Linked DNA regions of Homo sapiens. The protein of the gene in region 2 interacts with the protein of the main gene of each other region in a pairwise test. Each region holds a gene or a part of one and is shown on either strand. Other genes may lie near its edges. The genes, in order: LARP4B, DR1, RAI2, DCAF8, MKRN2, SPMAP2 and ZNF829.

The links.
Region 1: the proteins of DR1 (region 2) and LARP4B interact in binary tests that used the Homo sapiens proteins (3 or more experiments, as listed by UniProt).
Region 3: the proteins of DR1 (region 2) and RAI2 interact in binary tests that used the Homo sapiens proteins (3 or more experiments, as listed by UniProt).
Region 4: the proteins of DR1 (region 2) and DCAF8 interact in binary tests that used the Homo sapiens proteins (3 or more experiments, as listed by UniProt).
Region 5: the proteins of DR1 (region 2) and MKRN2 interact in binary tests that used the Homo sapiens proteins (3 or more experiments, as listed by UniProt).
Region 6: the proteins of DR1 (region 2) and SPMAP2 interact in binary tests that used the Homo sapiens proteins (3 or more experiments, as listed by UniProt).
Region 7: the proteins of DR1 (region 2) and ZNF829 interact in binary tests that used the Homo sapiens proteins (3 or more experiments, as listed by UniProt).

Annotation. Positions count from the first base shown.
Region 1 is NC_000010.11:924,795-929,095, forward strand, and holds part of LARP4B (la-related protein 4B), read right to left. Parts: intron 3,871-4,301; exon of another isoform or gene 1-3,870. UniProt on the Homo sapiens protein: Stimulates mRNA translation.
Region 2 is NC_000001.11:93,352,220-93,356,520, forward strand, and holds part of DR1 (protein Dr1), read left to right. Parts: intron 1-1,688; coding exon 1,689-1,852; intron 1,853-4,301. UniProt on the Homo sapiens protein: The association of the DR1/DRAP1 heterodimer with TBP results in a functional repression of both activated and basal transcription of class II genes.
Region 3 is NC_000023.11:17,799,127-17,802,677, forward strand, and holds the end of RAI2 (retinoic acid-induced protein 2), read right to left. Parts: intron 2,909-3,551; 5' UTR 2,885-2,908; coding exon 1,292-2,884; 3' UTR 923-1,291; downstream 1-922.
Region 4 is NC_000001.11:160,223,931-160,228,231, reverse strand, and holds part of DCAF8 (DDB1- and CUL4-associated factor 8), read left to right. Parts: intron 1-2,568; coding exon 2,569-2,641; intron 2,642-3,112; coding exon 3,113-3,170; intron 3,171-3,682; coding exon 3,683-3,790; intron 3,791-4,301. UniProt on the Homo sapiens protein: May function as a substrate receptor for CUL4-DDB1 E3 ubiquitin-protein ligase complex.
Region 5 is NC_000003.12:12,573,551-12,577,851, reverse strand, and holds part of MKRN2 (E3 ubiquitin-protein ligase makorin-2), read right to left. Parts: intron 3,061-4,301; coding exon 2,846-3,060; intron 1,222-2,845; coding exon 1,111-1,221; intron 1-1,110. UniProt on the Homo sapiens protein: E3 ubiquitin ligase catalyzing the covalent attachment of ubiquitin moieties onto substrate proteins.
Region 6 is NC_000019.10:360,613-363,803, reverse strand, and holds the end of SPMAP2 (sperm microtubule associated protein 2), read left to right. Parts: intron 1-1,377; coding exon 1,378-1,604; 3' UTR 1,605-2,057; downstream 2,058-3,191. UniProt on the Homo sapiens protein: May be involved (but not essential) in spermatogenesis.
Region 7 is NC_000019.10:36,892,069-36,896,369, forward strand, and holds part of ZNF829 (zinc finger protein 829), read right to left. Parts: intron 1,151-4,301; exon of another isoform or gene 750-1,150; intron 404-749; coding exon 1-403. UniProt on the Homo sapiens protein: May be involved in transcriptional regulation.

The DNA.
Region 1 (4,301 bases), on a different chromosome or scaffold from region 2:
ATGTGATTGTCCACCTGTCTCAATGGACACCAAACTCCAAGAGATGGCAATCTATCCCTCTTGTTCACCATACTGGGATCTACTCATCAACTATTTAGCGCATGCTACCTACCAGATATTGTTCTAAGGCTTAGGTTCATACTGAGGAGCAAAATATAAATCTTGATCTCATAAGAGTTTACATTCAAGTATGAGAAGACGGGCCATACATAAATTAGTAAGTAAATTATATGGTATGTTATAGTGTCATAAATACTATGAAAAAAGTACAGCAAGAAGGGGAGACAAGGAGAGTGCAGGGCAGGATACACCATAATATATGTGACTGTTGTAGCAGACTATCCAAAGAAGCATGCAGCTGAGAGCCAGCCACTTCCAGAGGCCAGTCTCTATGGCTTTACATAGAACAATGCACTTTCCTATTCCTGCTGGATGACGGGCCTTACAGAAAAATCCTGTTGCCTTTCATCTTTGCATCCCTAGTGTTCAACTGGTCAGAACACCTGCCACAGGAAGAAAATGAACCCTTTTCTTACCGTAATCTCAGTGGCCCTCCTTTATGCCAGGCCCTTTAGCAATACTTAACAGAAAATAAAAAATGGAAAAACATCCACTAAAGTTTAAAAGATACATTTTCAATATTGCAATTGTTTCATTTTGGGTTAACATGATGTTTTTATTTTAAAGCAAAATAAAGGTAAGAAATTCTATGGCTATCTAAAAGGGGGCATTTATTTTATTTTATTTCATTTTTTTTCAGACAGAGCCTCACTCTGTCGCCCAGGCTGGAGTGCAGTGGTGTGATCTCAGATCACTGCAACCTCTGCCTCCCGGGTTTAAGCAATTCTCCCGCCTCAGCCTCCCAAGTAGCTGGGATTACGAGCACGCACCACCACGCCTGGCTAATTTTTGTATTTTTAGTACAGACAGGTTTTCACCATGTTGGCCAGGCTGGTCTCGAACTCCTAACCTCAGGTGATCCACCCGCCTCGGCCTCCCAGAGTGCTGGGATTACAGGCGTGAATCAAAGTGCCTGGCCGAAAGAGGGCACGTTTTTAAAGACTGAGAAACAGTATAATTTAAAGGTCATGTGGCTAAATTACTCTATCTGAAAATACTTTATGCGCTAAATGTAGCTATGAAAAGTCAGTTAAAAACTTGTAAATATAACTTTTATACTCTATAAGAAACTTTCTAATGTATGCTTTTTGAGTAAAGATTTTCCTATTTGTTTACAGAAATGTGCAAGTATACAATCAGCAAACAATTTCTCTGGAACACAGGTGGGAGATGTCTTTGAGCATTCTTATCTCTTTACTTGAATTACTTTCACTAAACATCTACAGTTTACCAGTCCCTGGGCTGGGCAGAGGTGACAAGCATAAAAAGAGAATCTCACTCACAAGGAGCTTACATTAATTATGTGCTAAGTAACACAAAGGTACACTTAGTTGCTACAGAAACAGAGAAGCATAATCTCAGAAGTTAATGCAAAGCAGTCTGGAGGACTCCTAAAATATCTTTTTAAGGATGGTTTAAGGAGCTAAGTAAATATTTTAAAAATTTTTTTAAAGGAGGTGGACATTCAATTTCAGTCAAAGAATCTACCAACAGCAATGGCTACAACGTTTGCAACACCAAGGTAGGAGAGGGAGGCGTGGTCCTGATTAAAAGGTGGGGCAGGGCAAGAAGGAAGACACAGAAGTGGAAGCACACACAGGGCGAGGCCTAGGGCAGTCCTGATGAGTTTCTGAAAAGAGGCCAGCCATCAGGCTATGCCACACTCTGGCTACAGTGCGACTAAAATGATTTGTGTAAATAAAAGAGCATTTTATTGGGCAAATTTATGCACATCAGACTTCATAAAGAACACTTTCAGCAAAGATCAAGTCTCATCTCTATGATTATCATACTCCCCCTAAAAAACTAAGCAGTACGCTTTCAAATTTGTGTTAAACATGGCCGGGCGCAGTGGCTCACGCCTGTAATCCCAGCACTCTGGGAGGCCAAGGCAGATGGGTCACTTGAGGTCAGAAGTTCAAGACCAGCCTGGCCAACACAGTGAAACCCAATTTGTACTAAAGTACAAAAATTAGCCGGGCGTGGTGGCACGCACCTGTATGTAGTCCCAGCTACTCAGGAGGCTGAGGCAGGGGAATCGCTTAAACCCTGGAGGCAGAGGTTGCAGTGAGCCGTGATCGTGCCAGTGCGCTCCAGCCTGGGCAACAGAACGAGACTCGGTCTCAAAAAAAAAAAAAAAAATTGTGTTAAACATGAAATACTTTCAATATTGCAATGTACTCCATGGTCTAGGTCTCCTAACCAGGGCAATGGGGTTGATGGGAAAGAAGATGTAAAACCAGTAGCATCACTGAACTGCAAATCCTTTATGGTTGAAATAGGAGCCATGACAGCTTCACCAGAAAAACTATGAGAAGACAGAGTTTATAAAGGCATTGAAGGGACAAAAGGTATTAAGGTATGGGGTGGCGGGGGGGCAGTGAGAAAGAGAAGGGAAGGAAACACAGCTGAGTTAATAATTTTCCTTGTTCCTAAGGAAGGCATTTACACACAGGAAAAACAAAGCATTAGAACGTTAGGGGAAAAAACTTTCAAGTTGGAATTTATCTCCCTTCTTTTGAGAACCTAGCAGTTTTCTACCTTACAATTCCATGTTCTAAAAAAGGAATTCATTTTCCAATCAAAATAACTCTAGAAGTAGAGTAGTTACAAAGATATCAACCAGCATAAGAGCAAAAAGTTTAAACTGAACTAAACTCAGACCTGATGAGGTTAACTCTCTGAGTGCCTCATTTACTTCGTACTCTAAAATAAGCTTTTACAGAAAAAGGAGAACTCTTCACATCAATAAAGTTCTACAAAAGAGCATAAGCAAGGAAACCCTTACAGCAGTGTCTGTTTTTAACAAGGTATTTTCCAAAAACATGACTTCAGTGTTCATGTCTTCTCCCCATTGGAAAAAGGTTGTTTTGAGAATTTTGTAGAAGAAATTACAAGAATATACTCCAAGATTTTTGTGCAATTTATCAATCTGAAAAGAATATCCCTAAATCTGACAGAATCTATAAGAGTACTGTATGCATGATAAAAGCATATTTAAAACTTGTACCTTTGGCCAGGTACGCCGTGGCTCACGCCTGCAATCCCAGCACTTTGGGAGGCCGAGGCGGGCGAATCACCTGCGGTCAGGAGTTCAAGACCAGCCTGGCCAACATGGTGAAATCCCAACTCTACTAAAAATACAAAAAAAAAAAAAATTAGCCAGGTGTGGTGGAGGGCACCTGTAATCCCAGCTACTCGGGAGGCTGAGGCAGGAGAATCACCTGAACCCGAGAGGCGGAGGATGCAGTGAGCCAAGAACGCACCATTGCACTCCAGCTTGGGCGACAAGAGTGAAAGTCCGCCTCAGGAAAGAAAAAAAAAAAAAAACTTGTACCTTTAACACTAGGATAAAAACAAATGAAATCGATTGATGGTAACACATCTATACAGCTTTTTTACAACTTTGAGAGGCCCTAACATAGACAACACGTTACTAAGATTAGAAGACCTAGATTATAATCCTAGCTATCACTATTTTGACGGAAAATATGAATTTTAACATGACAATGAAATAACAGTGAAAGGAGTTTGTCAGCCACTCCTTGGCTGGTAACATCTACCATAGCCTATCACTACAAAAACTTGCAAATCTATGTAGAGTAGCTGCAGCTACCTGAAGGCACTGTTCATTGTAAACACCATTAACAATTTGATGTCCCAATTTGCATGTTTTGGGGGTGGGGGGAGACAAGGTCTCACTGTTGTCCAGGATGGAGTGCAGTGGCAGGATCATGGCTCACTGCAGCCTCAACCTCCCAAGCTCAAGCGATCTTCCCACTTCAGCTTCTCCAACAGCTGGACTACAGGTGTGAGCCACCATGCCTGGCTAATTTTTTGATTTTTTGGTAGAGATGAGGTCTCTCTATGTTGCCCAGGCTGGTGAACTCCTGGGCTCCTAAACTCACCTAGGCCTCCCAAAGTGCTGGGATTACAGGAATGAGCCACCTCACCCAGCCTGCACGTATTTTAGAACTACATTTTAAGATAATGTGAAGACTGCTTCATAAAAACACCTTAAATATATACTTGTCAAAACTTGTGCTTACTTATGGAAATTGCATTAAATTCAATAAATTCTTTAAATCTCACTTTTAAAAATGGCAATCTTCCCGAACATTAAACCAAATTACATTTCTCCCTGAATTTGCTGCCACTTAATTTCAGCTACTCTTCTACAG
Region 2 (4,301 bases):
CCACCACGCCGGCCAATTTTTTTTGTATTTTTAGTAGAGACAGGGTTTCACCCTGTTAGCCAGGATGGTCTCGATTTCCTGACCTCATGATCTGCCTGCCTTGGTCTCCCAAAGTGCTGGGATTATAGGCGTGAGCCACCGTGCCTGGCCATGTTGGTGAATTTGATATACAGAACTTAGAATAATGCCTTTCTGAAGTTTTTAGGGAGGTCAGGGGAAGTGAGTTAACTTAATAATAGGACAGTACTATGCTTTTTGGCATCAGATTATTTCTAAAGAAGGTTGATGAAAACAGCTTAACATTTGAAATACTTAAAGTTGTAAATCATTCAAAATGTCTAAAAACCACAGTTTGCATGGGCATGTAGATTTGTAAAGGTGTTTTTGGCATTCTCCCAGAAGAGCAAATCCCTGAAGTTAGAAGTGAGAGCATGTATACTAAAAGGAGTCTGGTTCAACATAATGATTGAAAGACTTCAAGAACTGATGACTTAAATTGATTTACTGTTTTTTGCCACCTATGTTTCATCATTGGTTCACAATACAAAATATGCCTTTGGGGCATTAGTCAATATACCAAAACTATAAAATATAATTTTAAATACTATGACCCAAAAGGAAATTTTATGCCTTGTCTTTTCTGGATTACAGAAGGTATTTAGGGTGTGTGAATTTTTTTTTTTTTTTTTTTTTGAAACAGGGTCTTGCTCTGTCATCCAGGCTGGAGTACAGTAACGCAGTCATGGCTCGTGACATCCTCAATCTCCTGGACTTAAGCAATCCTCTCACCTCAGCCTCCTGAGTAGCTAGAACCATAGGCACGACCCATCACACTCGACTAATTTTTTTACTTTTTGTAGAGACGAGGTCTTGCCATGTTGCCCGCGGTGGTCTTGAACTCCTGGACTAAAGGGATCCTCCCACCTTGGCCTCCCAAAGTACTGGAATTACAGGCATGAACTACCATGCCTAGCCCATTTTTTTTTCCTTATAAAATTTCCTTTCTAAATACGAAAAGGGGAGAAACATTTTTATTAGTGCTTCTTGTATCTTTATAGTCTTTCAGCTACGTTTTTTTTGCCACATCATTTAAATATGTTTTTATTTTTCCTGTTAAGTTTTATTTTCAAGAGAAACCTGTTGGCTGACTATAAGTGCTGAATTTCATGACTTTTATTTCCACCAGTATTTTTTAAACTTGGCAGTTTGAGTATCTGCTAAAAATAGCTTCCTGTTGGTATATTGGACAAAAGAAAAACTTCTGTTCTTTTATTCTGTCCTACCAGAACTTAGTAGAGAATGTGTTACCAGCCTACTTTTTCTAAGTCAAATGACACAAAATGTTTTTTCTTACTAAAACCATATGTTCTTATAATGGGCTTTTTTTTCTTCCCTGCTTACAGGAAATGCTTTGGTCTTTTAAAAATTAGTCAGAATGAAAAGTGAAGGCATGTGCCTTGGTTCTTCAAGTTTTAACTGATTTGCCACCTAATATTTAGCAGATTGATAAAATATTTGTCTTGGCTGCCCAGACAGTTGTTGTACAACTATAAAATAGGTAAAATTATTAGAAAACAGCAAAACATTCCCCTCCCCCAAAGAAAAGCCCACAAAAACTTTAGGTCTACGGGTTGGGGGAAAGCTGTGTTTTATCACCCTTTCATATTTTAATATTTTCATTTCTCTAGCACTAGAAAGTTTGGGATTTGGCTCTTACATCAGTGAAGTAAAAGAAGTCTTGCAAGAGTGTAAAACAGTAGCATTAAAAAGAAGAAAGGCCAGTTCTCGTTTGGAAAACCTTGGCATTCCTGAAGAAGAGTTATTGAGACAGCAACAAGAATTATTTGCAAAAGTAAGTAATTTATTTAAATTATTTTCCTCTGAATCCTACCCTGTTTGCTAACTGAAATTGCTTCCTAAATTAACAGACATACCCAGAGGATTCCCTTTTTCTAGGTAGTTGATTATAGATTCTGGTGTTCAGAGCTGACCAATTTGACTCTGGTTTATGTGAAAGTAAATATTTGCAGCAATCTGTTCTAAAGAGAACAACTCCAAATACCTATTGAAATTTCACTTGATATTTTTTCAGACAGAATGACCATTTTAAGGCATGAAAAGTATACCTAAATATTCTTAAGATTTAAAATGATGAGCTGATGAGAAAATACTATATCAAATTTTATGATGCATGACATACCAGCAAAATCTGATTAATATCAACTGTGTAGTTAAATTAGGTCTTTAATATACACCTTTGAAGCATTTTAATCTTAAAAAATATTTTAAAGCTAGTAGAGCAAAGGGAGAAAATGTCTTCTTCCTTGCTTGTAATAATTCTAATATCTAGACTCTGAAGGATTAGAACCAAATACTAATGTTCTCTGTTTCAAAAAGAGAAGGGAGGGGAATTGGTGGCAATGCTGTGTTTTCCCTTCTAAGTTCTGGCCTCTCATTTGAAATTATAAGGCAGCTTTGGATTGAATAGAAGAGAAGCCGTAGTAACCATTAGAACTGGGAAGTATCATTTTAGGTAAACTCTTCCAGGTTAGTCCTGTAGCTGATCTCTCTGCAGCCATAACAATCAGTTTGGTTTACATCAAACTGCATTTTAGTCTTAAGTATTGTTGGTCACTAGACACCAAGTACCATTTAAACAAGATAAAAAGAAAAACTTACATTTATTGAGTTCTAACCACGTGTTAATCACATTGCCAAGTAATTTTCCTGCATTATCTCATTTAATCCTCCCAACAACCTATCATAGGCACTAAAGAGGAAAAGCCTTTGAAGCAGGCGTTAGTACATGCAATGTTATAATTCATATGAATATGAGGTACAAAAGAAGAGGTGTTGATGTTTTAAAAACATTAATGGCTATTTATTGATATTGCAGACCACCTAGAGAATGCTAAATTGAACATTTAGTGACAGAAGATTTTCTCCTGGATACTTTAAATACATAAAAACTTGGCAGAGTTTTTATGAAATATAAATTTTATTGTATTCATTTACATATTAAAAAATAGACTCAGAGGCGGAAAAACTTCCTTGAAATTGTTTGTCATTTGTTCTACAGTTACTTACTGAAGTCATTACTATTTACCAAGCATCATGCTAGGTGCTAGGCTTACAAGAGTGAACAAGGAGACAGGGTTCCTGTCATTATAGAGCTTAATCTACTGGGGAAGATTGAGTGGGAAAGATTGACTTAAATAAAACAGTAAGTTCAGAAAGTTAGGAAGTGTTGGAGTCTATATTTAAACTTAGGTATTTTGACCCAAAAGCCTGTACTGTTTCTAACATACCATGCTGATGCTCTAGCCTCCATTTTATATGCTTAAACTTATTATGGGGCTTTTAAATAGAATATGTATTATCCTTGCCAGGGCAAAATATAAAGAAATAATTGACTGCCTGCTATATCTGTCTTCACCTTTCTATCCCTATTATCTGTTTTTTTATTCCTCTTTTTTGTCTCCCTTGTTTCTTACCCTGACTTATGTATGAAGATCTCTAGTATTTCTTTACTATTGTGAGGATGACCAGCGGAGAGGTAATATTATAGCAGTTGCCTAGTACTTCTTCCCTAGAGCACTGAAGTTCTAAATATGAAAGAGTGGATAAGTAAATATATCTTTTTTATCACTTTCATTTTGTTTCATTTTTTAGACTTTAAATATTAACACAATGACAGCCTCATTTGAAGCTAGCAGCAAATATTTGGAAGGAGGGAACCTTTAATACATCAAGATTAAAGTTAACTTTAAATTATAAATGAGTCATTTTAATATGTGGGAGTGAGAATCTTAAAACATAATGAAAACCTCCAAAAGAAAAGTGAATTAGGAAATACATGCCTGCTTACCTGTCTTTCACACCCCAATTTTAGAAGAAAAATACTTGGGATGGATTGAGTAGGGGGCAAGAGAGAAAAAAATATATTACAGTAAATATCACTGAAAAATGTTCAATTTGTGGAAATGAATACAAATAAAATTTTATCAATCAACTTTTTTTTTTTTTTAAAGAGACAGGATCTCACCATGTTGCCCAGGCTGGAGCACAGTGGCTATTGACAGGCTCGATCAGGCACACTTCAGCCTAGAACTCCTGGGCTCAAGGGATCCTCCTGCTTCAGCCTCATGAGTAGCTGGGACTATAGATGTGCACTAGTGAGCCCAGCTCAACAGTTAGTTTTAAAGGCATAGAAATGTTTTTATGTTCAGAGAAAAGTATCAGCGCTGATACAGGGCCGTGGTAGCTAAAAGTCAATTAAATTTGAAATGTAACTAGTACAC
Region 3 (3,551 bases), on a different chromosome or scaffold from region 2:
TTCCTCATTTGTGTGGGTGGCCTTTGCTGTCAGGGTAGAGCTGCAGTCTCCTTCCACGCGCATCGTTTCTGTCCGTCAAGAAATGGCTTAACCAGGGATTCTCAGCCTCAGCACAACTGACATCTCAGGTCAGATCATTCTTTGTTGGGGTCTAGGGGCTGTCCTGTGTGTTATAGAATGTCTAGCAACATCCCTAACCTCTACCCACTAGATGCCAGTAGTAATCTCTCCCCCCAGCTGCGACAACCAAAAGTGTCTCCAGGCTTTGCCAGATATCCCCCGGGGGTTACAATCACCCCATTTGATAATCACCAGGCTAAACTAGAAAAGAATGACTTTGTCTTCTCTCCCTGGCTCCACCCTCAAAGATCTCTATCCAAGGCTGGGAAAAAGTATGAGCCATCTCTTGATCCACTAGCCTGCGCCACTACTTCTGACTTGCAAGATTTTCAATCATTGAGAACAATGCTCTTACTGCCCTTGAAAAGAAGGGCATTTCCAACTAAACTTTTGGTTGGTGGGAAGGAAGCAGGTTACTTTTTTGTTGTGAGACATTTGTCTTGTCTTACACTATGGAAGGTCCAGGCACAGAATTCTACACACCCAAGAACTATATGAACTGGAAGGAGCCTCAGGCACTTGAAACTCACCTCGCTGTCCCTTTTCTTTGCCACTTATTTATTTATTTATTTTACAAATGAAATTTAAAAAACCCAAGGCCAAAGTGGGAAATGACTTGCTCAAGGTCATCCATATTCCTAACCCTCCTTTTACTGGGGCATAGGGCAATATTTTCCAATATGCCTGAAAAGCTTAGGTCTCTAATCACAGATAACTTACAGCTTTTCACAAGCAAGAGTTTTGGCCAAATTATGCCAGTTAAGGAATGTAAATTTTATAAATGATGAAATACTGCAACCAATTAGTGCAAACAAACATTTATTGTGAAATATTCATCCTACCCTTTATTAGGTATTACATCATCAAAGCACTTTGTGGCAATGAAAATAGCTTTTTTTACCCCTCTAATTCACCCAATATTCCATTAAAGCTGCAAAAAATGTGCAATCTGCTTGAAAAATAGGTTGCTCTTATTTACTCATTTGTGAAAAGTCAAAAATTAAAAAAGAAAATGATACTAGCATACAGGGCCTCTAGAGCCAATTCACCTTTCCATTTCCCAACTACTCCCCAAAATAATTAACAAAGATAATTTGTTTTAAATGCCTTTTTATAAAACCAATGCACCTTTCCCCATATTATAATCATACAAATTTTAAAAAGCCGTTATTTACTTTCTTGGAAAAAAGGTGGCCAGCCGTTGTTTTTTGATTGGGAGCATGTGTATTTCCTGGGAGTTCACTTTCTTTAACTTTATGCTCCGGTTTTTGATGGGTTTCCTAAGGGGCTCTGCATTTCCCATGGACTCTTCCCCTTGGCTGTTGATGTCATAGCCCTGAAGCACGGAGTCTTCTCTTTTGAAGGAGAAGTTTTTGGTGGACACCCCTGAGAGGCCTTTGATCTTGCCACAGAATATGGTAGGCACAGCATCTTCGACAGAGACAATGACCTTGGCCGCCTGGGACTCGCCCACCATCTCAATGTTATTTTCAGCCTTGACTTCGCCGCTGGGGTGGTTGGGCTGGCTGAGCATCTCGGTAGCAGCATCACTGCTGCTGATGTGACTATCCATCATGGCTGGGGCCTCATGGGACGTGGCAGGGGCAAAAGAAATTTCCATGCCACTGGGAAGTTTCTCCATCACTGTGTGACCTGAGCTGTCCACTGATGCACCACTGTCATACAGTGTCTCAGGGGGAGGCTCGGATTTCCGGTGGGCTGCCACTGACAGGTCTAGGGCTGCATCTTCCTGGAAGATTGGGGGACTGACTTCACCAGCCTTGAGCCAGGGCACTGACTTCATGGAGAGATCCAGGGCCTCGTTCTCACTTCCCATCTTAATGACCGTGTGGCGGCTGAGCTGGAAGTACTCCTTAGGCTGGAGGATGTCAAAGGGCTTCAGTTCATCTTTTTCCAGAGGGGTCTGGGTGCCTTTAAAGGGGTGCAGGCCGAAGGAAGATGGTGGCTTGGGGAAACTGGAGCTGAACTTGGATTCAGAACTCTGAGGCATCGGGATGGGGATGGGAATAGGGACTGGCACAGGCAAGGGGACGATTACAGGATACGGCACCAAGAGGGTGGCTGGTGGGACCAGGGGGGACAAGGGGGAGCTAAAAGGCTGTGGGGGCACAGGGGCATAGCCAGGAGGAGGCTGACAGGGTGGGGGCCCGAGAGTGCCCTGGGAGGGAAACAAATTCTGGAGCACAGCTTCAAATGGCAAAGTGGGCTCCTGCGGCTGGCTGGGGATCCTCAGGTCCAGGAGCTGGGGCTGGGCCTCGGGGTCCTCCGCTCCCTGGAAGAGGTTGTTGTGGATGGTACTGGAGGAGCATGGGGCCTCCTGCGGCAGGACCAGAGGGGAGTTGAGGTGCTGAAAGACGTGCTGCTCCAGCACCACGGGCAGTTGCACGGGGCCCTGGGTGGTCATGACGTAGGTGGCATTGCCATTCGGATTGAGCTCTGGTGCGGAGCTTCCCTCCACCTGCATGTGAATGGGCATCACCACTGGGCTCTCCCCGAGGCACAGGGGCTGCAACACAGTGGCCGCCACCTTCAGAGCCATGCCACTCTGAGACTCGGCAGGGGGGTTCAGAATGGATGGGGCTGGCACGGTCACCAGGGCCTTCTTTACCAGGTCAGTGGAGTTGATGTTCCAGGCCTCGGTGGTGATCAGCTGAGCCATGCCATTCTCCAGTCTGTTATTAGCCAAGGCAGGAGGGGAGTCAGTCATGTCCATGGAGAGGTTCTGGGACTGCAGGTCGTCCATCACTCAGCTCTGATGCCACTTGGCCTGCAACACAGAACATACAATATGAATCTTCCTTAAAAGACTATTTATAATTGCCTTAAGAGCTCTCTCACATCTTTAGAAAGTTTCCACGTTTTAGTTAACCAGGGAGCATAACCCATCTCTCTATGTATATGTTCAGGTTATAGATATCTCCTAATATATACAAACACAACCACATGATCCTGTGTGCGTGGAGAACCCCAATTTAACAGATGATTAAGCTATAAATGCAGATGATGTAATCAGTAAATAGCCAAGTGAGGTTAAACCAGGCATTTTTTAAGCCTAATTCTCAGCTTATATGTTTGGCCTTCAACAAAAACGAAGTTTCAGTCCAAGTTGCTATGTCAGACAGTTAAGATATGTAGAAATTTGACTTGTTCAAATTCAAATAAGCAGTGAAGACTTACTTTCCTTTAAGGAAAAAAATAATGCCTTGTCACATGTGAATATGCTATGACTATGGAAAATGGCATTTTAAATACTCTGTAGCAATCATTCTTCCAAAAGAGGTTTGATAAGCACAAGGGTCATTACAGTTGTCTCTCTGTCTCCCTCTGACCAATGACATTCCCATTTCTCCCAGTAACAGCAAAATCCGTTCCCCAGGGCAAGGTGAAGATCGATGATGACTTGCATGAAT
Region 4 (4,301 bases), about 67 Mb from region 2:
AGGGGCTTGGTGTGGTGGCTCATGACTATAAAACTAGAGCACTTTGGAAGGCCAAAGCTGGAGGATAGCTTGAGGTCAGAAGTTCAAGGCCAACTTGGGCAATATAGCAAGACTGTGTCTCTACCAAAAAAAAAAAAAATTAAGAAAAAATTTTAATTTTTTAATTAATTAAATATCTCCAGGTGTGGTGGTATGCTCCTGTAGTCCCAACTACTTGGGAGGCAGAGGAGGATCTCTTGAGCCCAGGAGTTTGAGGCTACAGTGAGCTGTGATTACACCACTGCACTCCATCCTGGATGACAGAGTGAGACCCTGTCTCAAAAAAAATAACTAAAAGTAAAATATAAACTATCAAGGGCCTATCATATGTTCAGAAAGTGGTAGGAAAGTTTGTATTAATCTTTCTATGCTTACTGTCTATCACAGGGCTTGACAAACTGTAGTGCTTGTTTTTATAAATAAAGTTTTATTGGAACACAGCCATGGCCTTACTTTACATGTTGTTTATGACCACTTTCATGCTACAATGGCAGAATTCAATAGTTTTAATAGAGATTAGATGGTTTGCCAGTTTACCAGCTTAAAACATTTACTGTCTTGTCCTTTAAGAAAAAGTTTGCCAAACTCCGTTCTAGCATCATATGTAGAATATAGTAAGCTATTAATAAACACTTAGTTGGGGTGTAGTGGCTTATACCTGTAATCCCAGCACTTTGGGAGGCTGAGGCAGGAGAATCTTTTGAGGCCAGGAGTTTGAGACCAAGCTGGGCAGATGCTGTCTCCACCAAAAAATAAAAATATTAGCTCAGCATGGTGGTGTGTGCCTGTAGTCCCAGCTACGCGGCAGGTTGAGGCGGGAGGATCGTGTGAGCTGGGGATGTCAAGGCTTAAGTCATCAGTAACCTAACTGCCAAAGCAAACAAAGTACTTTTCAAGTCTTTTTCTCTACTCTTGACATTATTACTCCTTCCCTGAAGCACCTTCTCTCCTTGATGTCCAACCACTCCTCAGTGTTGTTCATGGGTGTGTCTTCCTTTCTCCACCCATTAAATGCTGATGTTCTCCAGTAGCTCAGTCTTCAGCTCTCATCTTACTCTATACCAGGGAATTTTAACTTGAAGTACAAATATTATGTGAACCTCCAGAAAGTATGCTTATGTGCATTTTTCTGGGGAGAAGGGACTAGAGTTTTCATTATATTCTGAAACAGGCCAGAGATTCTAAAGGGCGAAGGGAAAATCTTCTCTGTATTTTCCCTTGGAGATCTAATTCCATTACCAATGCTTTAACTACCACCTTTCACACGGATATATGACTTACATCTGTGTCTGCAGACCACACTTATTCTGAACTCTAGACTTACACCTACTTAACAAATGGATATAATTAACTGATGACTTCAGCCAGAGAAGTCTCAGTGGTGAGTTGAGAACCAAAACCAGATTAGGATGGACTGAGAAGTGAATAGGAAGTAAGAAAGTGGAAATATTGAATGTTGATTGTTCTTTTCAGTAGTGTAACTGTAAGGGGAAGGAGAAAAAAAGCAATAGTAGGAAAGGACAGTCAGCAGAAGGATTTTTAGAAAGTGGCCAGCTGGTGATGAGGAAGAGGTTGAGAAATTAGATAATCATCAAACAAGGTCCCTGGAAGGATGAAATGAAAAGCATTTTTCAAGAGATTGGCTCTGAGATTGGAGGAGACTGGGTGAGAACAGATACTGGATCTGTCTTGTTCCTCACTGTATTTCTAGCACCTAGCATAATATTTGACACATAATATGTGTGTCCTCATGAGTTTAAAGCTTGGATTAGAGAGAGGAAGGAAGGTGAAGGTGTAGTGTGCTTGATAAGAATGAGGAAAGGAGAGGGAGTCTTGAGGATATGGGTGGTAGTTTTTAATAATTATTGTGGGGTATGAGAGGGAGAACAGGCCAAATACAGTTTTAAGGAGGGATTACAGACCCATTGACTTACATTAAGCATGGTTTCTGCCCGTGAGTAACCTTTTTCGGTAGGTAATGTACATGTAAAAAGCTCCATACTAATGTTAGTTGTTTCAGTGAAAAGTAGCAGTATGTGATATAAAACTTGAGGAGAGAGATAAACCACTTCAAACTGACAGAATTGAGGATTGCCACTTAAAATGGGAAGTATGTGGATAAAGGATTTAAGGGTTTGCCTGGCCAACAGATGAAACTCTGTCTCTACTAAAAATACAAAAATTGGCCGGGCGTGGTGGTGTGTGCCCATAGTCCCAGCTATTTAGGAGGCTGAGGCAAGAGAATTGCTTGAACCCATGAGGCGGAGGTTGCAGTGAGCCGGGGTCATGCCACTGCACTACAGCCTGGGTGACAGAGCAGGACCCCATCTCAAACAAACAAAAGATTTAGGGTTTGGAAATGGATTGGAAAAGGGATGCCCTTTAAGGAAGAGCACAAACCAAAAGCTTGGTTTGGAAAATGTTGTTTATCTGCATCCAGCTGGCAGTTTCCTGCCACTACATCAAATTGCAGCTCTTCAAGGGTTTCGTTTGTACATTTTTACATTTTCATTGCTTTTCCAACTGTAGGATTTATGACCAGAGGAAAATTGATGAGAATGAGAACAATGGAGTACTCAAGAAGTTCTGTCCTCATCACCTGGTAAGATTCATGAAGGGCCAGTTGCTGCAGGCTTCCCTGACTCAACCCCAAGGCTGCACCTGAACTTGTTGGTATGGTGGGAAGAGCTTGGACTTTCAAGTCAGTCATCTGGATTTGAATCCTGGCTTTACCACTTACCAGCTTTGTGATCTTGGCAGTCACTTCACTTCTGATAGCCTCAGTTTTTTAATCGACAAAATAGAAATAAAAATAACTGCCTTGCACCTTGATGGTGAGGCCTAATGAGACAGTGTACATAAAATGGCTAGCACATGGATGACAACCAAAAGAAAGCCCCAAGATGCTACCCCCTGAGGTGGTCATGTTTCATCAGTTGTACTCTTGTCTCTGTCTGTCTTTCTCAAATCTCTGGGAGAAGATATAGGGGAGTTTGAAGGAAAAGCTGTTTCCTGAAGATGGTATAACAAATGGGGGGGTGGGGCATCAGTCAGTATCTGCTCCTTATTGCAGGTGAACAGTGAGTCCAAAGCAAACATCACCTGTCTTGTGTACAGCCACGACGGCACAGGTACGTGAGCAGGGCCCAGCTCCTAGGCTGGCATGCCCCCTCTGTCTAGGGAGCTGCTGAGCCAGTGAGGCATGTGCCCTCCAGTGCTCACCACTGTGCTATAGCTCCAAGTAGAGCAGCTGGGGAGTAACTGCTGATGGTGAGCACATAGCGGGAGGATACAGTAGATGACCCTTGGAGATGCCAGGTACCATTTGCAGAATGCTGCAGATGATATTTGGCAGGGCCTGTCCTGAAGCCCAGGTTGCTTGCCTGAGCAGGTTCTTATGCCTTTGACTCATTCCTGAGTTAATGGGTATGACCTTTTTGAGCATTCTGCTGCCCCTGGGTTGGCAGTGTGTTCTTAGTCTACCCTGTACAGTCGGACTTGCCTGGTGTTCCAAATAAGATGGGTGCTACACCTGGGTATTTGGAGGGGGCACTACTGGCAAGAAGCCCCACCCCAACCCCCACCTCCTGGTCCCTGCTTTTTTCAGCCTTTGCCTTCACTGCTATGTTCTTGTTCTTGGCAGAGCTCCTGGCCAGTTACAATGATGAAGACATTTACCTCTTCAACTCCTCTCACAGTGATGGGGCCCAGTATGTTAAGAGATACAAGGGCCACAGAAATAATGCCACAGGTGAGACTGTCTTCCTAGGTTTCTTTGGCCCAAGCCTGTTGGCTTTGGAGAACCACAGTGTCTTACTCAGGTTATACAAATAGAAACTACCTGCCTGTGTTGCCATGGGCACTGAGGGATTATCCTGAATTGGGCTGGAGTTTTCATGTTTTCTCCGCTATGCTAGAGGAGAAAGCGCTCAAGAGCATCTCTTGCCACTCCAATAATGTTGCTTCTAATTGGTTTGGACATAAGGAGGCTAGACTAACTGTTTTTAAGATTTCAGGCAACTTCAAAAGAAGCACAAATGCCTTGTTAGGGAGTCAGGGAAAGCCCTCTTTAGTCAGTGGTCCTGAATTGCTTAAAATAGGGAGTGACCTTATACCTCTAGGAAGGAGGAGTAAACAATTCTTTTAGATGAGGCAGAAGAGGAGGAATGGTGGTAGTAACTAGCCCAAGATTGGCCTGTTTTGTTCCATGTCTGTGGTTCCCAAACTTTGGGGCACATTGAAATCATCTGATGTGTTTTGTT
Region 5 (4,301 bases), on a different chromosome or scaffold from region 2:
TACAAAAAATTGGCCAGGTGCAGTGGTGCATGCCTGTAATCCCTGCTACTCGGGAGGCTGAGGCAGGAGAATCGCTTGAACCCGAGAGGCAGAGGTTGCAGTGAGCCGAGATTGTGCCACTGCACTCCAGCCTGGGCAACAAGAGTGAAACTCCGTCTCAAAAAAAAAAAAATCATCACTTTACAGATAAACCATAACAGAATCCTAAGTCTCTCTACAATGTAATATTTACAATGTCAAGGATAAAATCTAAAATTACTAGACATACGAAGAATCAGGAAAATGTGATCCATTCTTAAAAGACAACAGAGGTCAACTTCAAGATAACAAGGATTTCAAAGTAGCTGCTACAACTATGTTCAAGGAGATGAAAAGAAAAAAAGATTGAAAAAGAATGAATATCCCCAGAGATCTATGAACAATATAAAAAAACTATCATAAACGGAAGTAGAGTCCCAGCAGGAAAAGAAAAAAACAAGACAGAAAAAAAGTTAATGAAACAATAGCTAAAATTTCGCTCATCTTGGGGAGTGACATAAGCGTAGAGAAAAACCACTCCACTCCTAGGCAAAATATCAACATGCTGACAACCAGGATAAAGAGGAACATTTGAGGCCGGGCACGGTGGCTCATGCCTGTAATCCCAGCACTTTGGGAGGCCGAGGCAGGAGGATCACTTGAGCCTAGGAGTTCAAGACCAGCCTGGGCTACATGGCGAAACCTTGTCTCTACCAAAAAAAATTAGCCAATTAGCTGGGCATGGTGGCGCACACTACTGGTGGCCCCAGCTACTCAAGAGGCTCCTGCTTGAGCCCAGGAGGCTGAGGCTGCAGTGAGCTGAGATTGCACCACTGCACTCCAGCCTGGGCAACAGAGTGAGACCCTATCTCACCGAAAAAAAAAAAAAAAAAAAAAAAACACCAAAACTAAACAGGTCCACATCACCATGTCCTTGCTCATTGCTGCATCCCAGAGCCCAGCATGGTGCCTGAGAGAAGGAAGAGAGGAAGAGGCCCCTAAGACCACACTCCTGGGAAGGAGAACGAGGACACGGGCTGACAGCAGAGCCAGGCAGGCAGCAGGGGCACGTCGAAACTCAAAAGCACTTACCCCATCCCCTGTTTGAAAGCTTCAATCAACTCGTTCTTTTTATTCTGATCTTCCACCCAATACACACTTGGAATTACAAACTCTGATATCACACGGCATTCTGGACAAGACCTGAAATAAGAATTAGATTACTAAGGGAGAAGTCATGTTACGAAGCCTGGGCACACTCTCTGCTAAACCTCTTGCTCAACTGCCTCACCACTACAGGCATTTCCTTCACCAGAAATTCCAAAAGATGAAATCACAATCATCCAAGAACCTTATTTACTATTAACAAAATAGGGTTTCCCAATGAGAACACATGGACACATGTGGGGGAACATCACACACCGGGGCCTGTCGGTGCAGGGGCAAGGGGAGGGAGAACATCAGCACAAACAGCTAATGCATGCATGGCTGAAAACCTAGGTGATGGGTTGAGAGGTGCAGAAAACCACCGTGGCACATGGATACCCATGTAACAAAGCTACACATTCTGCACATGTACCCCAGAACTTAAAGCAAAAAAAATACACACACACACACACACACACACACACACACACACACACATATATGGTTTCCTCAACAAAAAAGACAGATGAAATAACCCTCATACATTGCTGGTGAGAATGTAAAAGGGTGCAGCCACTTTGAACAGAGTCTGGCAGATTCTCCAACAGTTTAATGTAGAGTTATTATACCATAAAACCTAGCAATCCCACGCCCAGGTGTATACCCAAGAGAAATGAAAACACATGCCCACATGCTGTGTTCACAAATGTTGACAGCAGCATTATTCATAATAGTTGCAAAGTTAAAACAGCCTAAATGTCCACTAGCTGAGGAATGGATAAGGGAAATGTGCTGCGTCCATACAATGGAACATATTCCGCCAGGAGAAGGGGACTCTGGCACATGCTACAGTCGGGATGAACTCTGACAACACTATGCTCAGTGAAAGGGGCCAGGCACAAAAGGCCCCAAATTCTATGATTCCATTTATAAGAAGTGTCCAGAATAGGCAACTCTGTAGAGACAGAAAGCGGATGAGTGGTGAGTTAAATTGTGGGCTTTTATCTCAATAGAGCAGTTGTTTCACCACACGATTTTAGGCAAATTACTTGACCCCCGCACCCCAGGCCTGTTTCCTAATCTGTAACTGAGGAGGGTCTTTGAGGGAATGAGATGAGCGGACAGATGTGGAGTTCTGAACAGTAGAACGCGTGCAGTAACCTCTCCACATGCCAGCTCTTCCCCTGTCCTGCTGGAGAATTTGAGACTCCTATGTTGGCCACATTGAGCACATCCCATGTGCCAGGCATCATGCAGAATGTTTTACATGCATTATTCCACTTCATCCTCAAATAACCCTATTTTCGTTTTTGGTGGGGGGAAAAAACGAAGCTCAAAATGATTAACAGGCAACTGGGCTACAGGCAGGTACTACTGGATTTCAAACACAAGGCTAGGAGATGAAAACAGGTCAGTGCCATTTAACACCTTTTTACACAGATCATCTTTGCTGAGTTCCTCCCCAACACCCAGAAAGCTTGGTAGGAATTGTTGCCCATCTTTTATAGGAACAGGCACTTAGGCTCAGGAAGAGTAAATGACTTGCTGAAGTTCATGCAGCCAGGGGCCAGAACTCACCAGTTACTCTTGAGGGTAACGGAGGGCTTAAAAGTGGACGGAATAAAGTCTCAAATCAAACATTCTCCTAGCTCCCACAGCTAAGACCCCTGGCTGTACTTACTTAATGATTGGGTTTTCAAACTGTTTGGCACACCGCCACTGCCGGATGCAGGACAAACAGTACGTGTGATTGCAATTGGAGAGAATCCCAAATCTCCTCTCAGAAGCAGAGGCCTTCTCCAGGATCACTTCCATGCAGATACTGCACACTTTGTCCTGGCTTGCCTGGAAGGCAAAGGCCTTTTCCATCTCGTGTTCGAACGTCAACATGCAGATCTGAAGCACAGACAGGAAGGAAGGCTTTGGTTGTGGGCCACTGAGGAGTGGCAGGAGCCCTAGGAGTAGCTGCAGCCACACTGCCACAGCTGAGATCAGGAAGGAACACTGACAGCGACTGCTGTGAGCAAAGGCCCAGGCTCCCCCAAGTCAGGACACTGACATCTCCCTCAGACCACACAAAGGACTTCAAACCATCACTGGTCCAGCCCCTTGCTTTCCTAGGAGGTGACATGGTCACCACCCATTTAGGACTGAGAACACGGAGATCCAAAAAGGTTAAACTGCAGTGGAGTCAGAGTCCGTAAGGACTGCGGCCCTAGTCCCCCAGCTCCTCTGGGCACTGTTTCCCCCGACTCTGAGCCATGTCTACATCAGAGATGCTGACTCGTCCTTACCATGAGGCTTGAGGCTGGCAGCCTAGTCCTATGTAAGAAGCACCACTTCTCCCCAAGAAAATGATTCAATGAATTCATTCATTCACTAGGCATGCCCTGAATTCCTTCTATGTGCTGGCATTTGAGCAAGAGTGAGAAGACCTAGGCCCAGCCCTTGTAAGCTCAGTCTGTCCAGATCTGAGACAAGCCAACACTCACCGCAGAGACCTCACACACTTGCATAAAGAAGACAGCTCTAACCCTCTGCTTCCCTGGAAGACAATGGAGAGTGTCTCCTTGTCCGCTGCCACATGGAGTCAGTACTAATTTACCTCTTGATTATCTAGGAATACGCTGTCCATTTAAACATGCCTTAGGCCAGGTGCAGTGGCTCACACCTGTAATCCCATTACTCTGGGAGGCCATGGTAAGAGGACTGCTTGATCTCAGGAGTTCAAGACCAGCCTAAGCAACATAGCAAGACCTCACCTCTGAAAAATAAAATAATTTTTTTTTTTTTTTGAGACAGAGTCTCTCTCTGTCGTCCAGGCTGGAGTGCGGTGGTGCAATCTCAGCTCGCTGCAAGCTCCACCTCCTGGGTTCAGACTATTCTCCTGCCTCAGCCTCCCAAGTAGCTGGGACTACAGGCGCCCGCCACCACACCCAGTTAACTTTTTGTATTTTTAGTAGAGACGGGGTTTCACCATGTTAGCCAGGATGGTCTCAATCTCCTGACCTTGTGATCCGCCTGCCTCGTCCTCCCAAAGTGCTGGGATTACAGGCGTGAGCCACTGTGCCCAGCCAAAATAAAATAAAATTTTAAAAGTTAGCCAAGCCACCACACCTGGCATTTTTAAATTTTTT
Region 6 (3,191 bases), on a different chromosome or scaffold from region 2:
CAGTACTTTGGGAGGCCGAGGCGGGCAGGTTGCCTGAAGTCAGGAGTTCGAGACCAGCCTGGCCAACATGGTGAAACCCTGTCTCTACTAAAAATACAAAAAATTAGTCGGGCGTGGTGGCGGGCGCCTGTAGCCCCAGCTACTCGGGAGGCTGAGGCAGGAGAATCACTTGATCCTGGGGAGCGGAGGTTACAGCGAGTCAAGGTCATGCTACTGCACTCCAGCCTGGGCAACAGAGCAAGACTCTGTCTCAAAATGAAATAAAATAATAAAGTAAAATAAAATGATAAAATGAAATAAAATAAAAAATAGGCCAGGCACAGTGGCTCACGCCTGTAATGCCAGCCCTTTGGGAGGCTGAGGCGGGCGGATCGCCTGAGGTCAGGAGTTCAAGACCAGCCTGGCCAACATGGTGAAACCCCGTCTCTGCTGAAAATAGAAAGATTAGCTGGCTGTGGTGGTGCACGTCTGTAGTCCCAGCTACTCAGGAGGCTGAGGCAGGAGAATTGCTTGAACCTGGGAGGCGGAGGTTGCAGTGAGCCGAGATCACGCCACTGCACTCCAGCCTGGGCGACAGAGCAAGGCTCTGTATCAAACTAAATAAATAAACAAATAAAAATAAAAAATATGTTTCAGTGGCTTTTAGTACAGTCACAGGGTTATGCAACCACCACCACAGTCAATTTCAGAACCTTTTTATGCCTTCAGAAGGCAGCCCCGCCCCCATCAGCTGTCACTCCCCATTCCCGTCTCCCAGCCCCTGGCACCTACACGTTCACTTCCGGACTCTGGATTGGCCTGTCCTGGACATTTGTATAAATGGAATCACACACTGTGTGTCCTTTCGTGTCTCTGGTCTCTCGCAGCACATGCTGTCCTCAAGGCTCAGCCATGCTGTAGCTGGTGCTAGAGCCTCGTTCCTTTTCTTGGCTGAGTCATATTCCACTCTGAGTGGACTACATTTTCATCCTCCGTTTCTCTGCTGATGAGCAGGCCGTTTGAATGGGGGAGCTTTTTTTTTTTTTTTTTTTTTTTTTTAAGATGGAGTCTTGCTCTGTTGCCCAGGCTGGAGTGCAGTGACGCGATCTGCGCTCACTGCAACTTCTGCCTCCCAAGTTCAAGCCATCCTCATGCCTCAACCTCCCGAGTAGCTGGGACTAGAGACGCACCACCACGCTCAGCTAATTCTTGTATTTTTAGTAGAGACGAGGTTTCATCATGTTGGCCAGGCTGATCTCTAACTCCTGACCTCAGGTGATCCACCTGCCTCAGCCTTCCACAGTGCTGGGATTCCAGGTGTGAGCTCCCATGCCCAGCCTGAATGTGGAGCTTTGAGGTTTGAGCTTCAGTGCTGTCCTTCTCTTCTGCCCCCACTAGGGCCCAAAGCTCAGTCGGACAAGTGCGTTCCTGACCGAGATCCTCGCTGGGAGGTGCTGGATGTCACCAAGAAGGTGGTGGCCAGCCCCCGGATCATCTCCCTGGCCAAGCCCAAAGTGCGCAAGGGCCTCAACGAGGGATACGACAGGCGTCCCCTCGCCTCTATGAGCTTGCCACCCCCAAAAGCATCACCAGAAAAGTGTGATCAACCCAGGCCTGGCCTCTAAGACCTCCGCTCCCAGTAAACACCCTCAGGCACCCTAACCCTGTGTATGTGATTATTCTGAGCTTTTTGGCCTGGAGAAGGGAGGGCGGGCTAGAAGGCCAAAAGAAGGATGAGGAGGACAATAATATTTATTTTTGCATCCAACCTGCGACTTGTCCAGCTGTTTATTTTCCGAGTCACTTTCATTGACCATCTCGAGCGCCTTCTGAATCTCTTCAGTCCAGACTTATTCGTCCATTCCTGAGGGCCCACGGGACCGTCGGAGTCGGAACGACAGCCACAGTCAAACCAGCCGACGCTCCTGCTGAGGGGCCACGGGACCGTCGGAGTCGGAACGACAGCCACAGTCAAACCAGCCGACGCTCCTGCTGAGGGGCCACGGGACCGTCGGAGTCGGAACGACAGCCACAGTCAAAGCAGCCGACGCTCCTGCTGAGGGCCCACGGGACCGTCGGAGTCGGAACGACAGCCACAGTCAAAGCAGCTGACGCTCCTCCTGAGGGCCCACGGGACCGTCGGAGTCGGAACGACAGCCACAGTCAAACCAGCCGACGCTCCTGCTGAGGGGCCACGGGACCGTCGGAGTCGGAACGACAGCCACAGTCAAACCAGCCGACGCTCCTGCTGAGGGGCCACGGGACCGTCGGAGTCGGAACGACAGCCACAGTCAAACCAGCCGACGCTCCTGCTGAGGGGCCACGGGACCGTCGGAGTCGGAACGACAGCCACAGTCAAACCAGCCGACGCTCCTCCTGAGGGCCCACGGGACCGTCGGAGTAGGAACGACAGCCACAGTCAAACCAGCCGACGCTCCTGCTGAGGGGCCACGGGACCGTCGGAGTCGGAACGACAGCCACAGTCAAACCAGCCGACGCTCCTGCTGAGGGGCCACGGGACCGTCGGAGTCGGAACGACAGCCACAGTCAAACCAGCCGACGCTCCTGCTGAGGGGCCACGGGACCGTCGGAGTCGGAACGACAGCCACAGTCAAACCAGCCGACGCTCCTGCTGAGGGGCCACGGGACCGTCGGAGTCGGAACGACAGCCACAGTCAAACCAGCTGACGCTCCTGCTGAGGGGCCACGGGACCGTCGGAGTCGGAACGACAGCCACAGTCAAACCAGCCGACGCTCCTGCTGAGGGGCCACGGGACCGTCGGAGTCGGAACGACAGCCACAGTCAAACCAGCTGATGCTCCTCCTGAGGGCCCACGGGACTGTCAGAGTCGGAACGACAGCCACAGTCAAACCAGCCGACGCTCCTCCTGAGAGCCCACGGGACCGTCGGAGTCGGAACGACAGCCACAGTCAAACCAGCCGATGCTCCTGCTGAGGGGCCACGGGACCGTCGGAGTAGGAACGACAGCCACAGTCAAACCAGCCGACGCTCCTCCTGAGAGCCCACGGGACCGTCAGAGTCGGAACGACAGCCACAGTCAAACCAGCCGATGCTCTTGCTGAGGGGCCACGGGACCGTCGGAGTAGGAACGACAGCCACAGTCAAACCAGCCGACGCTCCTCCTGAGGGCCCACGGGACTGTCAGAGTCGGAACGACAGCCACAGTCAAACCAGCTGATGCTCCTCCTGA
Region 7 (4,301 bases), on a different chromosome or scaffold from region 2:
TCATAGGGTTTCTCACCAGTGTGAATCCTCTGATGTTGAGAAAAATATGAACTACAACTAAAAGCCTTGCCACATTCCTTACATTCATAGGGTTTTTTACCAGTGTGAATCCTCTGATGTCGAGTAACGAGTGAGCCACGACTAAAGGACTTCCCATACTCCTTAGATTCATAGTGTTTTTCACCAAAATGAATTCTCTGATGTTGGATAAATTGTGAGTTTTGATTAAAGGTCTTTCCACATATCTTACATTCCCATGGTTTCTCTTCACTCATAGTTTTTTGAGGTGGAATAAGAAATGTGGGCTGAATAAAAGTAGACATGTCTTCACGGGTAATTATTACTTGACTGAAATGTCTCTTCTTTAGAGATAATATTTTGGTCTCACACATTGATTCCAGATCTGAAAGAAAATACAAAGGCAAATAAATTTTCCTATTCTGGGCAAGTTAAAACTTCTAAAAAAGAAATGGGAGAATTAAACTGAAAAGAATATCTGAGAAATTACACAGTTTTCAAAGGTGGAGAGGCAATCTGTAAAACTGACAAGAAAAGCACAGACATTAGGAGAGGTAATAAAAGAAGCTGAGGATGTGGATTCAGAAAGTAGATGACCTCTATGATCCTCAAATTTTGGTCTGAACCAGAGTCACCTTAAGCCTTGGTGAATACACAGTGTTCAGCACCATCCTCCATATTATAGAGAGATTCTAATTAAAAAAAAAAAATTTTTTTTGCCCCCACCCCAGATCCCCCACAGGCGCTGCCTGAGACCCAGCTCTGTGTCTCCTCGTCGTACAGCTTGTGGAGCTCCGACTGCAAGGCCATCAGCATGCCCAGGCAGGGGTTAAGCTGGAGGGCCATGGAGGAGGACAGGCCAGCAGGATGCCGCTTCTGCTCCAGGGCATGCACCATGCGTGAGATATTCTAATTATATACACGTTCATAAACATATGCTCACATGCACAGAGTATGATACTGTATGTTTTGCAATTCGTAGATAACTGTCAGACCTACATGAAAGGACTGTTAAGAATAACAAATGTGTTGAAAGGTTTAAATGTCGGGGGCGGGTGGAGTTCAGTGACTGTGCAATGGTATACTGGCAAATCACCAGCCTCCGACAAATCTAATATGCTGAACACAACTGGTGGGAAGAGTAGACAGGTACATCTCTTCTGTGCATACAGCATGATATGGGCTAGGAACTCACTGAAAATAATTTGCTCTGGAATTCTGTGATGTTGACCTTGGGAGAAAGAAATGAATAATTCAAGTCATAGCAGTGATTGAGAAGGAAGGTGGCTCAAGTTTGAGACACAAGAGAGTTAAGATAGGATGAAATGTACTCTATGAGAAGAATGGAACTCCATGTCAACATATAAACAGTGAGCCCCAGTTCTATGCTTTAAGGCAACCTCTGAGCCCTCTTTTCCTTGTTTATTAAAATGGGACTGACACTTAACTTATGATTGCTAAAAAGATGAGGAATAACGTATATAAATAATCTGATATAAAGTAAGCACTCAGTATTGGTAGCTATTATTATGAAAAAATGTCATAGCAAAAACAGATATTGGGCAAATAAAATGGCTTGAAGACATCAAAATAAAGCCAGCTAGACTATCTTAAGTATTCCCTCCACACAATCATTGGCCAAACTTAGTCTGGGTGAGTCCCTAAAAATCTCTTAAAGTTGTCCTCATTTAATTACTGAATCCCCTCTTTCCTAGACCACTACAGGAATCTCCTAATGGTTTCCCCAGTATGTTCTAGCACCCTCTAATCCATTCAGCACCTGGTGTGATATTTGGTCTCACTTTGCCCTCCTGAAAATCTAAACTCCTTGGTAATTACCAAGAAGACTCCAATAATGAGGCTCTTGCCTACCTCTACAACCTTGTGTTATACTCCACTTCCACTTGCTCAAGAAGCCCCAGTCCTTCAAGCACCTCAAGTTCTCCCTGCCCCTCAGGGCCTTCCCACATGGATCTCCCCTTTACCTGGCATACCCCTCATCCTATCACCATTGTTGGCCCTGCTAACAATGAGAAAAGCCTCATCACAGCTTCCACTAACAACCAAGCCCTAAGCCACTGAGGAACTCACAGACACTGCTGACACTGATTGCAGCCAGAGAAATCATATGGAGATTATACCACTGCATCCACCTATAACAAAGCCAAAGCAACCTACCCAACCAACACTATAAATACATCTACAGGAAAAAGGTTTTCCTTATGAAAACAAATCCATAAAATTGGAAAAAATGACCATAACAAGAAATACACAGATATCAATGTAAGGATAAAAGAAACACGAAAAAGCATGGAACCATGACATCTCCAAAGTAATACAATAATGCTCCAGCAACAGATTCCAACAAACAAGAAATCTATCAAGTGCCTGAAAAAGAATTCAAAATAATGATATTAAAGAAGCTCAGTGGGAAACAATAGAACATGGATAAAAACCAAAAGAATCAGAAAAAACAATTCATGATCTGAATGAGAAATTCAGCAGATAGATATCATGAAAAAGAACCAAACAGAAGTCCTGAAACTGACAAATTTCAATGAATGAAATAAAAAACACAATTGAGAGCTTCAACAATAGACTAGATCAAGCAGAAGAAAGAATTTCTGAACTTGAGGACAGGGTTTTTTAAAAGAATCCAGGAAGAAAAAGTAAAAAATAATAATTTTTAAAACTGAAAAAAGCTTAGATGACATATGGGACATCATAAAGCAACCAAATATTCAAATTTTGGGTATTCTAGGAGAAGAGATGGGCAAAGGCATAAAAACCTATTTAACAAAATAACTGAAAACTTTCCAAGTCTTGTAAGCAATATAGACATCCTGATACAGAAGGCTCAATGATGCCCAAATAGATTCAATCCAAAAAGGTTTTCCAAGGCCCATTACAGTCAAACTGTCAAAAGTCAAAGACAGAGAATTCTAAAAAAAGCAAGAGAAAGGCATCAAGTCACATATAAGGGAACCCTCAGGCGTCAAGTCACATACAAGGGAACCCTCATCAGAACTAGTAGCAGATACCTTGGCAGAAACCTTCCATGCCAGGAAAGAATGGGATGATATATTCAAAGTGCTAAAAAAACACTGTCAGCCAAGAATACTGTACCTAGCAAAGCCATCCTTCAAAAATGAAGGAGAAAGTTTTTCCCAGAGAAAATGTATCACAACTAGGGTGGCCCGATCAAAAATGGCAAAGGGTGTCCTACATCTGGAAGTAAAAGACATATCTACCATCATTAAACAAATGAAAATAAGAAGCTCACTGGTAGAGCAGATACACAAATGGAAAGAGAAAGGACTCAGATGTAACCATTACATAAAACCACCAAACCAAATGATAAGAGGAAAGAAAAAGGATATAAAACAACCATAAAAAATTAACAGATTAGGAATAAATCCTCACCTATTAATAATAACCTTGAATGTAAACAGTCAAATTCCCCACTTAAAAGATACAGTCTGGTTGAATGGATAAAATAAATATGACTCACCTATATACTGGCTGTGAGAAACTCACTTTATATATAAAATCATAGACTGAAAGTGAAGAGATGAAAAAAAAATACTGCACACAAACAAACCAAAAGCAAGTGAGAGTAGCCATACTTAAATAAAACAGACATTAAGTAAAAAACTGCAAAAGAAGCAAAGAAGGTCATTATATAATGATAAATGGGTCAATTCAGCCAGAGGATATAAAGTTCTAAATTTATAGGCACTCAACACTGCAGCACCCAGATATATAAGCAAATATTATTAGATCTAAAAAGAGAGATAGGGCTGGGCATGGTGGCTCATGCCTGTAATCCCAACACTTTGGGAGGCCAAGGCGGGAGGATCACTTGAGGTCAGGAGTTCGAGACCAGCCTTCCCAACATGACGAAACCCTGTCTCTACTAAAAATACAAAAATTAGCTGGGTGTGGCCAGGCGCGGTGGCTCATGCCTGTAATCCCAGCACTTTGGGAGGCTGAGGCAGGCAGATCACGAGGTCAGGAGATTGAGACCATCCTGGCTAACATGGTGAAACCTCGTCTCTACTAAAAATACAAAAAATTAGCCAGGCATGGTGGCAGGCACCTGTAGTCCCACCTACTCGGGAGGCTGAGGCAGGAGAATGGTGTGAACCTGGGAGACGGAGCCTGAAGTGAGCCGGGTTCGCACCACTGCACTCCAGCTTGGGTGACAGAGCAAGACTGTCAAAAAAAAAAAAAGAAAGAAAAAAAAATTAGCTGGGCGTGGTGGCATGCACCTGTAATCCGAG